2 linked regions of the Homo sapiens genome follow. The protein of the gene in region 2 interacts with the protein of the main gene of each other region in a pairwise test. Each region holds a gene or a part of one and is shown on either strand. Other genes may lie near its edges.

Evidence for each region.
Region 1: the proteins of SETD7 (region 2) and STEAP3 interact in a two-hybrid assay, tested with the Homo sapiens proteins (one large-scale study listed by BioGRID and IntAct).

Annotation. Positions count from the first base shown.
Region 1 is NC_000002.12:119,240,834-119,245,337, reverse strand, and holds part of STEAP3 (metalloreductase STEAP3), read right to left. Parts: intron 917-4,504; exon of another isoform or gene 1-916.
Region 2 is NC_000004.12:139,534,914-139,540,421, reverse strand, and holds part of SETD7 (histone-lysine N-methyltransferase SETD7), read left to right. Parts: intron 1-5,508. UniProt on the Homo sapiens protein: Histone methyltransferase that specifically monomethylates 'Lys-4' of histone H3. H3 'Lys-4' methylation represents a specific tag for epigenetic transcriptional activation.

The sequences.
Region 1 (4,504 bases), on a different chromosome or scaffold from region 2:
CAAGCTGAACACAACACAGCCCCTTCCCTGGGGAGAGCACAGACTCAGGAAGAGCAGGGATGACTTCTGCCCTCCACCCTTTGTCCCTCCTGCTGAATGATTTCCTCGGGAAAAACTGGCAGAGTGAGAGTGCTGGGAAAGGGAACTCTGGAATTTCCATGACCAATGTGATGCAGTGCCATACTTCTTTTCAAAAGGATTAGGCAATGGACAGTGTCACTAGCCAGGAGTGACCATCTAACCCCAACCTCACCATCGCTGGGTGTTTGATGACCAGGAAGGGTGAGCATGTCCCTATGCTTGTCTACATTTTGCATCTTGGAGCAGTTCTTCTTATGCTCTCCCTGAAGCATGGTGAACAGCTTGAGGGCAGGACCTCATCTCATCTGACCTTGGACCTCACTGTGTATCATAGCCTGGCACGGAGGCAGTGCTCAGTGTTTGCTGAATGAATGAATGAATGAACACCAAACCTTGATCTCTGAGGGCAGGACTGAGAGACAAGTGAATGGGCCCCTAAGATAGAGTGGGTGCCCTGTGATCTTCTTTGCTGAGCCCAAGATATGAGTGGATGTGGAGGAAACCCTGAACTCGGGCCATCGGTCTACAGTAAACTTGGATGGAAAAATTATTATATATTAATTGTCACCAACTTCTAACTAAAATTTGCTATTTCCTTTAAGTATGAAGGTAGGCAACATAATTTTTCATTAATACTGACCAAGATCATATCATAAATTTACCTGTAAATAATTTATCCTAATACCATTTAAATTGAGCACAAATTTAAAACCATGCTAGCCAGGTGCAGTGGCTCACACCTGTAATCTTAGCACTTCAGGAGGTCAAGGCAGGAGAATCGCTTGAGGTCAGGAGTTCAAGACCAGCCTGGGCCACACAGGGAGGTCCCATCTCTAAAAAAATAAAAAAAAAATTAGCCAGGCACAGTGGCACACGCCTGTCGTCCCAGCTACTCAGGACATTGAGGCAGGAGGATCGCTTGAGCCCAGGAGTTGAAGACTGAAGTGATCGCACCACTGAACTCCAGTTTGGGTGACAGAGCAAGACTATCTCAAAATAATAATAATAATAATAATAATAATAATAATAATAATAATAAAAGTAAAAATAAAATTATGGTAGACATTAGATCTGCCACTAGAGCTTGTCATTTAATGTGCTAATAAAGAAGCATGCCTAATGCTACTGTAGTCTTTTTTAAAAAATATTTTCGCTGTGTTTCCATATAATATATTTCATTTGTAACCCTAAGCTATTTTGTCTGGTGCATGTAAGAACATTATTCTGAGCAGAAGTCCACAAGCTTCACCAGCCTACAGTTCCACAGGGCTTAAGATCCCCTGCCCTGAAGCAGCAGAGCAGCTGGGGTGGCTTTCAACACCCTCCATGGGCGTCTGCCTCTTCCTACTTTTCCACAACACTCTCCTGGAACCTCTGGACACCTGACCAGGTGAGGGAGTGGATCCAGGGACTGACATAAAGATGGGGCAGGGGAACCAGGAGGCTGGGCCCGGCTCTGCTATGAAGCAGCTGTGTGTCTTCAGACAAGTCTGTGTGCCTCCCTGGGCCCCAGCTTCCATCTTTGTCAATGGAGATCACAATCTCTGCTCTCAGATGACAAATCATGCAATCTTAAGAGGTTTTTGAAACTGTGATTTTTCCTTTTATAAGGCAGCAGCAGCAGCAGCAGTTCCTATTAATGGATGCCTACCATACACCCATTGCTGCTGTCAGGCCTTTCCTCGGGTGATGGGCCTCTGGTCCTCACAAGAACCCCAGGAAGTAGATTCAGTTATCATTCCCACTTTACAGAGGAGGGAACTGAGGCTCAGGGAGGCTCAGGAACTTGTTTCAGGCAGCACAAATAATTGAGGGGAGGAAGAGCAGGAGGCAGGTCTGTCTGCCTCGGCAGTCAGAGCCTCACTCCGTCTTACTGCCCAGACAGAGAACAATGAGCTTTCCAGAGATGTCCCAGAGAGCTGCATAGCTGGGACCACACTGGCTGGGACAAGAGGCCAGGTGGGTGGAAGGGGGTGCATTCTCAATGTCAAGAGTCAGGGGACATGTGTTCCTGTCCTGCCTCTGCCAGCATGGGAAACTTCCTTAGCCTCTTGCTCATCTTTAACATGGTTTTGAAACATGGCCCTGCCTGTCACAGGATAACAGGGATTGGCTGAGCTGAGACTCTGAGGGGTTGCTTTTGTGGGGATCATGCTTTCCGAGTCCACAGATGGGGGTGGCACTCCTGCACAGACATGCAGGCACCCGCCAAGACACTCACGCCAGGCACAGCCACCCTGTGAATAGGAGACAGTATTTTCTGCCTGGTTCTGGGAGCGTTTCCTGGGTGGTGGGCTACATTTTGTAGGTGACAACGGGCCTCCTGACCCATCCTATAGTGAGTCCACGGCAGGCGGGTCTGCACCAGGTCCCTACTCAAGGCTGCTCGGTCCAGGAGCCGGGCTCTGGAGCCAGTCCGCCTGGATTCTGGTCCTGACTCTGCCTTATGTTAACTGTGTGACCATGGACCTATCTGTGCCTCAGTTTTCTCAGCTATAAAAGGGAGACCATGGCAGCACTTCCCTTATGGGCAGGTTGTAGGAGTAAATAAGTCAATTGTGTAAAGCACTTAGAACAGTGCTGAGCACATCATAAGCACCCAGCAAACGGCATTCAGTAATCACTAAGCAAACACTGGCTGCCAACAGAAATGAAGCTCCGTGCCAGCAGTAGGGCCCAGGTGGAGGGAGGGCAGAAGACCCTGCAGGCACCCCTTCAGCCCCGGGGAAGGAGGATGAAGAGCTGGGTGACAGTTATGTCAGCCCAGGAGCCTTGCAGATGGCCTCAGGGCTCGCAGGCCAGCATCTGCAATTTGGGCCGAGGTGAATTCAAATCCCTCTTCTCCTGTGGTCGGGAGGGCCAAGTCTCCCCTTGTGGTCAGTCAAGGCTGGGACAGATACACCCAGGCCTGTCCCCAACCACAGGGAGACACAAGCCCCCGGGGAGTTTTGCCCTGATGGGGAGGAAGAGTAGCCAGCCTGAGGCCCCCAGACCATCTTTCCAACATTTGCTGATGATTTGGATGATCCTAAGTAGGAACCCTCTGGACAGAAGCCTCTCCTCTGTCTCTGCCCTCTCCCCGCTGCCTGCCATCTCCTGAGTGACTTTGTGCTGAACACTCCTAAGCATATAAGGATGAGTGAGAAGCGGTCCCCACCCTGAGGGCTTACAATCTAGTGTGGGTTGGGGGAAAGGGGGCTTGAATAAGACCCATCGCCAATGACTGGACATAGGGCAGCTAGAGACAGAGCTCAGGAATGGCACAGGTATGGCCCAGGCTCTTGCCCAGGGGGCAGCCGAAGGGGAAGCCAGGACGGCTTCACGCAGACATGCATCTGAGGATCCCTGAAAAACCTCGAATGATTTACCTCGAAACAAAACTGAACCAGCCCAAAGTGAAGCAAGGCGAGAAGATCCAGATTTTGAGTCCTATTTTTGTTGAACCCCAGACCTAATCACAGGTGGGAAGGGATTGCCAGGGCTGGGCCTTGAGGGTGTTGCTCAGAACCTGACTTGGCATCTGCTCCCTTCCAGGGAGCTGATATGGAGGCCGCTGCAGCCGAGGGGAGCTGGTCCCACGTCTGCCCCTAACTGGCGCTGGGACATAGGAGGTCCCTGGGCCTCTCTGGGTGGCTTCTCTAACAGGAGCTGCTGCACCAGCTCAGCTCCAAGCCCCTTTCATCCCCAGCAGTCTAGGGTGCTATGAAAAGTCCTAGACTTATGGTCCTAAGGGTCCCTGCTTTTCAGCGGTAGGATAAATGCAAACTAAACGTTAAGCACCTCCAAAGCTTCTCTTGCCACCAAAATGCAGTCTGCAACAGGAAAATGCCAGGTTGTAATGCTGCCTTGTACTGCTCCCTAGGCGGCCTCTTCCTTGACCTTTCTGATGTAGGGACGGAGCCACTTGGCTGGGAGGGGTCAGGCAGGTGGTTAAAGGCACGGGCTGTGGGTGGGGCTGCTGGGGAGAAATCATGGCCTCACATGCCAGTAGCTGGGTGCCTTTGGGTGAGTTACATAGCTCCTCTGTGCCTTAGTTCCCTCACCTTTAAAACGGGAACACTAATTATACCTCTCTAAAGACTGTTTGAGGATGAAATGAGTTAATATGTGTAAAAGCTCAGAGCTCATTTCTGACTGGTTGTGTGTGCACTTGTGTTTCCTAATCTTGTATGCATGTGTGTGTGTGTGTGCACGTGTCCTATTCTTGTGTGCATGTGTGTTGTGTGTACTCTTCTCTAACTTCTTCATGGACAGTGGCCACGTTCAATTCTTCTGCCCCCTCCTGATGCTCAGCATGAACCCTCCTGCTGAAGGCTGGCAGGGGTTGGGGGCAGGACAGGTGGTACATGTCTTGGAAGTCCCAGAGGCCTGTCCCTGCGGCCTGAGGTGAGGGTGTGACTAACCCTGTCTGGGCCCTGGCTCC
Region 2 (5,508 bases):
GGGCCTGACTGCCTTTCTTCCATTCTTTAATTTTCCTTGAAGTTACTCATCAGCCATAGTTGTGAAATGTTAAAAGGAGTTCTGGAGTGAATTCAGTTATGTTCTTGTAGGGGCCTTAACAACTTGGGAAGAGCTTGGAAGATTGACAGAAGGTTTTCCTGAGGAATCAATTCAGAAGAATTCTGTTCTAGCTATTTGGCCTCCCTGAACTTCCATTTACTTAATTTGTAAAACGGAGATAATTATACCTGCTTTTCAGGATTGCTGTGATTGAATGAGAAAACCTGTAAAGACCCTTAAAGTGTAGGACACTCAGAAGGTGCTTAGGGGAAAAGATGGATTATTTTATCATTGTTGTTGTTACTATTATTATTAATAATTATTAGGAGAGTGTCTTAGTTTGGGCTGCTACAACAAATTCCATAGACTGGGTGGCTTAGACAACTGAAATTTATTTCTCACAGTTCTGGAGGGTGTGAAGTCCAAGATCAGGGCAGCAGTACACTTTGTGTCTGTCGAGGGCCCACTTCCTGGTTTGTAGATGTCCATCTTCTCCTGATATCCTCACATGGTGGAAAGTAAAGGGAGAGAAAACAAGCTTTCTAATATCTTTTTATAAGGGCATTAATCCCATTCAAGAGGGCTCTGCCCTTGGGACCAAATTACCTCCCAAAGGCCCCACCTCTTAATACCATCATATTGGGTGTTAGGAGTTCAACACAGGAATTTGGGGAGACACAAACATTTAGTCCGTAGCAGAAAGTTTTCTTGAGGTTTGTTTTTAGAAAGCAAAACTAAATTTCATTATTCACTCTTCAAATATTTTACTGTTACTTTGAGGCTTTGTAATAATTAGATCTATAGTAGACTCATAGATCTTTTCTTAAAGGATAGAAAAAGAAAACCTTCAAAGATAGACAGTATGTTATATTATATGGAAGCATTAGAGTTCTCCATCAAACTTGCTCCAACACCTTGGGAGAAGTTGAAGTTTCTGGCTGGAAATAGTTCTAGCAGATGGGTTGCATCTCCTTGTTGCTGCTCTTTGCTTAGTTTGCAGTGTTTCAAAAGATAATATATATTGTCATATAAAATAATTCCTAAAATAATGTATATACTAAGGGTCACAATTCAATTTGGTTAGAGATGGGAGTTTAAGGAGTGATTATTCATTTTTAAAATTTCCTCTCGGTTATTGTATTGCTATGGCTGACAAAAGGAAGGGAACACAGTGGAAGGAAGGGAACAGAATTTAGGCCCCAGGAGGCGGAAGGTCCAAAACCTAGACCCCAGAACCATGAAGAAAAGCCAAAACTGTTAAGTCTCTAAGAACAGTTTTCTATATTCAAACACTAACAGGAATTTTTAATGAAAATACAGCAATATCTGAATAAAATGCAGATATGTAAGTCTAGGAAAACAACTATAAAATTTATCCATTTCTTTGTAAGTTAGATTTCTTAACTGATTTCTCGAAATTTAACTCTTAAGTACAAGAGGTTGGATAAAACAGGAAAAATTGATCTATGTGCAGAAAAAGAAATTTAATTAAAATTTATGTTTTAATTTCCTCAACATTTTCCAGTTTGATTCAGATGATGGTACCAGGAAAATCAAACAATTGCAAGACCATTTTTGTAATTTCTTAACATACTAAAGAATTTGCCAAGATGTTGAAAGGAACTTTAAGAAAATACAAGTTAAGCATGTTAAGAACATTATGTATAGTATGATCCCATTTTTATTAAAATAACAAAAACAGAAGGTAGGAAAATGCGTGGTATAGAAATGAAAAGAGTGGCCAGGAGCGGTGGCTCACACCTGTAATCCTAGCACAGGCTGAGGCGGGTGGATCACTTGAGGTCAGGAGTTCGAGACCAGCTTAGCCAACATGGTGAAAGGCATCTCTACTAAAAATACAAACATTAACCAGGTTTGGTGGCACACACCTGTAATCCCAGCTACTCAGGAGGCTGAGGCAGGAGAATCGCTTGAACCCAGGAGGTGGAGGTTGCAGCAAGCCGAGATTGCACCACTGTATTCCAGCCTAGGCGACAGCAAGACTTCATCTTAAAAAAAAGAAATGAAAAAGTCTTAAATACTGTATGTGAAATTGGGGAAGAGGACTGAGAATTTCTACTTTCTGCATCTTAGTATTGCTTGAATTGCTTTTTATGTGTTTGTTTTACAATGAACACATATTGCTTTTTTTTAGAGGTATTTATTTTCTTCCAGTCAATTGGATCACTCATAAATTACTGCAGATAGGAATTTTTCTTGCTTGTTCTTTAAAAATAGATTTAATGCAGTTTTATAAATTTCTTTATTTCAGTGTTTCATAACTGTTTCTTTGATGATGCTTTTTTTTGATGATGCTTTTTAAACCCAGTTTTTTAGTAGAAAGCTTGCCATCATACACATGAATATGCATGTTTAATAATAATAGCTGCTCTTTATTTAAGCAATCACTATGTGCCAGACCATATTCTAAGCATTTGATATATATTAACCCATTTAACCGTTATAACAACACTCTGAGTAGTCCAGTTTACAAATGAAGAAATGAAGCATAGGAAGTTTAAGAAACTTTCCTCACGTACAGCCTGTATGCATATCGAATTCATATAAGAATGCTCCCTGCACTTGAATAACACTGTTATGTTCCTTCTCAATCTTCTCTTCTCAATGCAAAATGATCCCAGTTTCCATTTCTATTCTTTTGCTTAGGAATTATCAACATGAAGTTTATATGTTGGGGGGATACGTGGATGCATATTTCCTAATTTGTTCCCATAAAGGGCTTACAATCTAGTTAGAGAAATAGGACACGTAAATTTAACATCGATAAAGACATGGAGTGTTCTGTAATAGTACATGCCTAGGCTCTGATGAATAATGTGCATGGCAGGGCTGCCAAGATCAGGATAGATTTACTTTGTAGGAAAACAAGGTTCCCCGCGGATGATGAGTAGGCTCTGTTTAACACAGTGACCAGCAGACTTGCTCTGAAACCCAGCTCTCAATCCAATTTCACCAAGAAACATTAGAAGGCTATTTCTATGTACCCACTTTTCAAATATGACCCGATATTAACATTTTAATGGATACAAGTCTCGCTCTGTTGCCCAGGTTAGAGGGCAGTGGTGCAGCCAGGCGCGGTGGCTCACACCTGTAATCCCAGCACTTTGGGAGGCCGAGGTGGGCAGATCACTTGAGGTCAGGAGTTCGAGAACAGCCTGACCAACATGAAGAAACCCCGTCTCTACTAAAAATACAAAATTAGCTGGGCGTGTTGGCGCGTGCCTGTAATCCCGGCTATTTGGGAGGCTGAGGCAGGAGAATCACTTGAACCTAGGAGGCAGAGGTTGCAGTGAGCCAAGATTGTGCCGTTGCACTCCAGCCTGGGCAACAAGAGTGAAACTCCATCTCAAAAAAATAAAAAATAAAAAAGATTGCAGTGGTGCGATCTCGGCTCGCTGCAACCTCTGCCTCTTGGGCTCAAGCAATTCTCGTGCCTCAGCCTTTCGAGTAGCTGTGGTTACAGGTGCCTGCCACCATGTCCGGCTAATTTTTGTATTTTTAGTGGAGACAGGGTTTCACCATGTTGGCCAGGCTAGTTTCAAATTCCTGACCTCAGGTGATCCTCCTGCCTCGGCCTCCAAAGGGCTGGGATTACAGGCATGAGCCACCATGCCCAGTCTATTTTTTTTTTAAGACAGAGTCTCGCTGTCACCCAGGCTGGAGTGCAGTGGCACAATTTCAGCTCACTGCAACCTCTGCCTCCTGGGTTCAAGTGATTCTTGCACCTCACCCTCCTGAGTAGCTGTGATTACAAGCATGTGCTACCACCCCTGGCTAATTTTTGTATTTTTAGTAGAGCTGGGGTTTCACCATGTTGGCCAGGGTAGTCTTAAACTCCTGGCCTCAAGCGATCCACCTACCTTGGCCTCCCAAAGTGCTGGGATTACAGTCATGAGCCACTGCACCCATTGGCTTCTTTCTTTTTTGATAGAAAAATGCCAGAGATTTCAGAGTATTCATTATTAGTCCATGATTATTTTTGTTTTCAATGAAGAAAAAAGAAAAGAAAAAAAATCATAACTTTTTTTCCCCCGGCTGGCCTTAAGGATTTTAAAAGTTTGCTCCCATATGTATTATGGAAAGCAAGGAAAAATATAGTGTGGAAGCTAAGCTAAATAAAGGTCAGTGAGTAAACTTTCGATATGAGCAGAGCTTTTTAGAGCAGGGATTAGCAAACTTTTTCTGTATGTGGTGAGAGTAAAATCGAGGCTCCGTGGGCCACATACGGTCTCTGCTGCAGCAATTCAACACTGCTGTTGTAGTATGAAAGCAGCCATAGATGATGTAGAAAGGAACATGCATGGCTTTGTTCCAGTAAAACTTTATTTACAAAAGCAGTCAGCAGGCCATAGTTTGCCAGCCTCCTCTGGAAAGAACAGTTAGAGAGAAAGGTAGTGCCTTGAATGCCAGTCTAAGAAACGTATATTTTATTTCCTCAATGACAGAGGATTTTAAAAAATCACTTTTATCACCCTGGAGAACCCAGTTTATGTGTGTAATATGCCCTCTTTTGTCATCAGATTTCATCTAACTTACTATTAAAAGTTGCCAAGAAAGCTAAGCTGTGGCCTCAAGCAGATGGCTGAAAAAATAACGCAGTAAGATTTGCTTTCCAATGCCTTAAGAGTTTGCATTTGTGTACTTTGAGTCAGTTGGGCTAAGAGGGAAATAGCAGTTTGTTCTTCGTACTCTGATAGATGGGATGATGGGCTCCATGGGTAAGGGAGGTTAGGACAAGCCACTGAATACAGTTGGGGGAAATGTCTGCAAGTCCATATTATTTTTTGTCTGATTTGCAAGACCTGTTTCTTGTAGATTTGATCATAACCCTGAGAAATATTGGCAGACTAGTCTGTCAGGGAGTAATATTCTACCCAAACTCACACAGGAACATTTTGAATGCTGCTGAGAGTCCAAAGTCAATAGGGTTGCCAGGATGAGCAAATAAAAATCTAGTTAAATCCAGGACACCCAGTTAAATTGGAATTTGCTCAACAAAAAAAGTAAGTATAATTATATCCCATTCACTATTTGGGACATTCATAAACTAAAAAATTATTTGTTGTTTATCTGAAATTCAAACTTAGCTGGGAATCCTGTATTATACCTGGCAATCCTAAAAATGAAGATAAATGAATAGTTTCTTGCACTACATAAATTACATCATTATGTCACTTGATTAGTACCCTTCACCAATGATTTTTTTTTTAATTGTGGGAGTCTAATGACAGTTGAATCTCATTACTTCCAACCTCACTGTTTTAGAATTTTGATTATTTATGCAAGAGCTATGCTAAAGTGCACTTTATTCTCTTCATGAATTTAGGAAGCCTATTTGTCATTGATAGTACAAATAAAACTGAAAGAAAACTATTTATCTCCTTGGGATACTACAAATAGTATAATTACCTTTTAACCAGAAGCTAT